Regions from separate parts of the Homo sapiens genome. Here region 1 is linked to region 2. The links come from fine-mapping of genetic effects on gene expression. A gene starts in region 2. The other region holds a variant in brackets. All regions are shown on one strand. Distances are between the middles of the regions.

Region 1 (2,500 bases), 73 kb after region 2:
AAGTGTTGGAATTACAGGCGTGAGCCACCGTGTCTGGCCTATTTCTTTTTTTTTTTTTCTTTTAAATAATCTATACCCTGGTAGCTTTGATTGAGATGCTGAAGTAGTATTTATTTTATTTATTTTTGATACGGAGTCTCACTCTGTTGCCCAGGCTGGAGTATAGTGGCGCGATCTCGGCTCACTGCAACCTCCGCCTCCCGGGTTCAAGTGATTCTTCTGCCTCAGCCTCCTGAGTGGCTGGGACTGAAGGCACATGCCACCATGCCCGGCTAATTTTTAGTAGAGACAAGATTTCACCATGTTGGCCAGGCTGGTCTTGAACTCCTGACCTCAGGTGATCCACCTGCCTCAGCCTCCCAAAGTACTGGGATTACGGGTGTGAGCCAATGTGCCTGGCCTATTTATTTATTTTTATTTCATTTTATTTATTTACTTATTTTTTTGAGACAGAGTCTTTGTCTGTCACCCAGTCTGGAATGCAGTGGCACGATCTCGGTGTACTGCAACCTCCGCCTTCCGGGTTCAAGCAGTTCTCCTGCCTCAGCCTCCCGAGTACCTGGGACTACAGGCATGCACCACCATGCCTGGCTAATTTTTGTATTTTTAGTAGAGATGGGGTTTCACCATGTTGCCCAGGCTGGTCTCGAACTCCTGACCTCAAGTGATCTGCCTGCCTCAGCCTCCCAAAGTGCTAGGATTACAGGCGTGAACCACCACGCCCGGCCCCTGAAGTAGTATTGAAATATCATTTTGTATTGTAAATTATGTGCTGTATTACTTTGACTTAAAGGTTGGTGCAATTTTATATATATATATATTTATTTATTTATATATATATTTTAAACTAATTTAGTCAAAATGTATGTATTGAACATCTGCATATTAGACACTGTGGTAAGGCATTGTGGAAAATTTAAAAATGAAATCCTAGCTGGAATGGTGGCACATGCCATAGTGCCAGTTACTTGGGAGGATGAGGCCCGAGAATTGCTTAAGCCCCGGAGTTCGAGCCCAGCCTGGGCAACAGCAACATAGTGAGACTCTGTCTCAAAAAAATAATTCTCCCTGCACTAAAGGGATTTATATTAGTGGACAACTATGTGAGAACATAATTATAATGTCACACACTGTAATAGAAGGAAGAATAAAGAGCTACATGAGCATAGAGGAGGAGGCTTGGCATAGAGGTGACATTTGTAGTGCTTCTTGGCGATAACCTAATTGGCTTCCTCACTTTTCTTCAGACCTGCCTGCAGTTCTTTCTCCATATGTTTGGTGTCATCTTAGTCTTCCTCAGGATGCCCCTTTCCCTGCTTTCTTTACATTTATTAGAATCCTCCTCATTCTTCTTCTTCTTCTT[T/C]TTTTTTTTTTTTTTCAGACACAGTCTTGCTCTGTTGCCTAGGCTGGAGTGCAATGGCGTGTTCTCGGCTCACTGCAACCTCCACCTCCCGGGTTTAAGCAGTTCTCTGCCTCAGCCTCCCGAGTAGCTAGAATTATAGGCGCCCGCCCGCCATGCCTGGCTAATTTTTTTTTTTTTCGAGACGGAGTTTTACTGTTGTTGCCCAGGCTGAAGTGCAATGGCGCAATCTTGGCTCAACGCAACCCCCACCTCCTGAGTTTAAGCGAATGTCCTGCCTCATCCTCCCGAGTAGGCTGGGATTACAGGCATGTGCCACCACAACTGGCTAATTTTGTATTTTTAGTAGAGACGGGGTTTCTGCATGTTGGGCAGGCTGGTCTCGAACTCTTGACATCAAGTGATCCGCCCACCTCGGCCTCCCAAAGTGCTGGGATTACAGGTGTGAGCCACTGCACCCAGCCCCTCATTCTTTCTAGGCCCCGCCATCAGTCCACTGCAGCTGAAGGTGCTAACAAGAGAATGATTACCCATGTCCTTTCAACTTGACATTTGCCTTGTTTTCTTGGTTGCCATTTTCTCTGCATGATTCTACTCAATTTTAATGTGGGTTCCTTGAACATGGGCACTGTGTCCTCCATCTCTTTGTGTTTCCTATAATACCAATCATATTGCCCTCCATGTTTTAGTTGTTCAATAAATGTTTAGGGCCGGGTATGGTGGCTCATGCCTGTAATCCCAGCACTTTGGAAGGCTGGGGTGGGCGGATTGCTGGAGTCCAAGGATTTCGAGACCAGCCTGGGTGACATAGTGAAACCCTGTCTCTACAAAAAGTACAAAAATTAGCCATGTGTGGTGGTACACCTCTGTTGGTCACATCTACCCAGGAGGCTGAGGTGGGAGGATTGACTGAGCCTGGCTGCAGTGAGCCAAGATCACACCACTGCACTCCAGCCTGGGTGACAGAGCCAGACTCTGTCTCAAAGAAAAGAAAAAAATGTTTGGAAGCTGATATGTGATAATTCTAGTAACCATAAGTATAATATCCCAAACCATTGACCCTTGACCTTGCCTTATTGCAGAATTTATTATTCAAAATACTCTCAGCTTGGCTGAGTGAGTTTTGTTTGTGGTTTCTTA
Region 2 (3,014 bases):
CATAGTCACGTCAACAGTTCACCCAAAGAGAAGAGGTGGGGCCTGGCTTCTCCCACAGGGCACAGCCTAACTATGGAGACCCAGGGCTCCTTCCTGCTGCACTAGGCCTGTGCTCTCCCTATTGCCTTCAGGTGGTGTGATCCCGGCTTCCTCACAGAGCCCTTTTTTCCTTCTGCCCAGCTCCATCCCACCAGAGTTTCTACCCCCGCTGAGGCATCTCCTGGGCACAGACCACCACACTCTAAGCCGGCTGGCCTGGGAGTTAGGGTCCTGCCCACCTCACCTGGGAGTTGGGGTCCTGCCCACCTGGAGTTTAGCACGCTGGTCGCTCACTTTGCTTTGGTCTGCACACCTGGTGTGTGCATGTGTATACTGCTTGTGCCATCTGTGTACCCCTCTCCCTGGAGTACACTTGTGGTCACACTACAGTGGGGACATCAAGAATGCAATATTTATGGATTGCTGCATGATTCTTAAAAATGAATAAAACTGTTTACAAGGGAAGGAGAGCTAACTGCAAAGTGAGCTTATCTGTGAAAGTTTCTGTCTGACTTTCGCCAGCACTCTTTAATACTTTTACTCAAGAGGATCTGGAGTTGGAGGAGTGGGAGAGGCAAGGGCTAGGGAAAGGCATGTTGGCGGGGGAGTGATGCGCCATAGCCGGGCCTTCTTCATGGTCTGGGCACCAGCCTCCCCGACCCCGGCTCTCCAGCTCCTGGGCAGAGGCGGGGTAATCAACCCAGCCCCCACCACTGCCTCTGCAGCCGCCTTAAACCGGAGAACGTCCAACCCTGCAGCTCCTCAATAATTAAAGAGCAGGAAAGCTGGTGACAGGAGGGAGGCCAGGGGAAGGGAGGAGGAAGGGACACAGTCCCCAGAGTCCCTCTACTCTTAATCCCTGTGACTTAAAGGTTGGTGAAATTAATTGGGCAAATGACCCCGCTAGGAGAATTTGACAAGTCCATGACTTCAGAGTTTTACCCACGGGCTCTGCTTCATCAGCTGTCTCCAGAGGAGTGAGTGCGCTTCTGCAGAAGCCTCTGGAATGTCAGCTTCCTGGAACCTCGAGGATACGGGTGGGGAAGGAGCTGCTTACTGGGACACACTGGATTACCCTACCCCCTTGGTGTGTCTGCCGCCTCTGTGGATGTAAGCGGCAGGTGGCATCGGAAAGTCAGACCTGCCTGGGACACCAGAGAAAGACCCTAAGAGTCGGGGGAGAGGGAAAGGCTGCAGAAACATGAGAAAGTGCCACTCGTAGCGGAGAGGAAAGAAAACCTCAAGGATACGGTTCCCGAGCCTGAGCCCGCTCCCAGCCTTAGCCCCCCAACCCCAGGCTCCGTCCCAGGAGCAGTCGACGCCTCAAAGCGTACGGGACAGGAAGGGGGTGGGGGCGAGAGTCTTGGTTCCCCAGAACGAACGGATCCATAGCGGTTCCCGGTGCCGCAGGCCGCGCGCTTCTCCGACCCCAGCGCGGGGCCCTCGGGCGGGAATGAGCCGAGCCGGGACTTAGCGGCGGGTAGGGGGTTGGGTGGCGCGGGAGAGGGCGGCAGAAGGAGGGAGTTCGAAGAGAGTTGCCGCCAGGGAGAGTGGCAAGTGCCCGCGGTCTCCTTGGAGACGTGCTGGCCAATGGCAGAGGCGGAAGCTGTTTATGGGGGCGGAGCGTCGCCATGGCAGCAGGAGAAGCCTTTGGAGCGGCTACTTAATGCCGGTCCCGGGGCCGCGGTAGCTCAGAGAAGCGCCGTCGGGCGGGGGGGCGGCAAGAGGCGCTGGCAGGGCCCCCGAGCTGGGGGCAGAGAGCCGCAGGGGGTGGGAGCAACTTCTTCCAGAACCTTCCTCTGGCCCGGGCTGCGCTCTGAGCCAGGTAAGGGATGGGGAGGGCTGCAGGCCAGGGGGAAGGGTGGGCAACGGTACCAACCCGCTCTCTCATTCGTCCTTAACGGAAGTGGTGGGCCCAGGGACTGACATCGGAGAAGTCTGGGGGAAACTCGCCTCCTGCCCCCCGTTACTGTTCCGTCCCCTTCCTTCCCAATGATCCCCTATCATAATATTCCTTTTCAAGGATCAGAGGACCTCCACCGCCCCCGCCCCGTCGTACCGCCCTCCCAAACTTCTCGCCCCACTTCCATTTGTTGCGAGGAGGAAGGGGGTCCTGATTTCCTGCTCTTCGGGAGAAAAGGATAGCCTCGGATGCCCCTACCCTCTTCATTTGGCTAATAAAACCTCGAAGAGGAAAGGAAGAGGGAGGCAGATCTGATGGGGGTGGGACCCCAGGGCCTTGCTTCTGTTTCCCATACCTCGGCACTAAAAGATCCTCCCCAGCTGCGGGGATGATGTTAGAGAGGGCGTCCCCGTACACACACTGTCCCCTCGGGGGTGGGGTAGTGCTCAGCTCCCACCGTGGTCCTCGCAGGCACCACATACTTATTCGGAGGAGGCGCCCCCGGGGTCGCGAGATGGAAGCGCGCGTCCGGGAGGCCGTGTAACGGGAGCTGCGGGACTCAGCGGGCCAGAGAGCGCGGCGGGCCACCCCCGGCTCAGCCCGTGGATGCTGACCGCCCCCTCGGAGAGTCCCCGCAGACATGGCGGAGAGCTGGCTGCGCCTCTCGGGAGCCGGGCCGGCGGAGGAGGCCGGGCCGGAGGGCGGCCTGGAGGAGCCCGACGCCCTGGATGACAGCCTGACCAGCCTGCAGTGGCTGCAGGAATTCTCCATTCTCAACGCCAAGGCCCCCGCCCTGCCCCCGGGGGGCACCGACCCCCACGGCTACCACCAGGTGCCAGGTTCAGCGGCGCCCGGGTCCCCCCTGGCGGCCGACCCCGCCTGCCTGGGGCAGCCACACACGCCGGGCAAGCCCACGTCGTCGTGCACGTCGCGGAGCGCGCCCCCGGGGCTGCAGGCCCCACCCCCCGACGACGTGGACTACGCCACCAATCCGCACGTGAAGCCTCCCTACTCGTATGCCACGCTCATCTGCATGGCCATGCAGGCCAGCAAGGCCACCAAGATCACCCTG

The links. PIP is the estimated chance that this variant, and not a neighbour inherited with it, causes the effect. A credible set is the group of variants that fine-mapping cannot tell apart.
Region 1: its variant is the best candidate, but not a certain one, in a credible set for the expression of FOXJ1 in whole blood (TOPMed, PIP 0.86).

The regions. Positions count from the first base shown.
Region 1 is chr17:76,067,334-76,069,833 of GRCh38, reverse strand. All of the region lies in intron 2 of SRP68 (signal recognition particle 68), which reads left to right. Among named protein-coding and RNA genes, the nearest start is that of SRP68, 3.9 kb to the left of the region's middle. The variant T/C (reference allele first, on the strand shown) is at 1,364.
Region 2 is chr17:76,139,964-76,142,977 of GRCh38, reverse strand. FOXJ1 (forkhead box J1) reads left to right here and starts at 1,733. Exons shown (of 3, transcript NM_001454.4): 1 at 1,733-1,864; 2 at 2,414-3,014. The coding sequence starts at 2,583. It overlaps RNF157 (ring finger protein 157), which reads left to right. Exons shown (of 19, transcript NM_052916.3): 19 at 1-504. RNF157-AS1 (RNF157 antisense RNA 1) reads right to left here and starts at 2,422. Exons shown (of 8, transcript NR_040017.1): 1 at 2,298-2,422. RefSeq lists silencers at 1,738-1,897, 2,576-2,645, 2,706-2,895.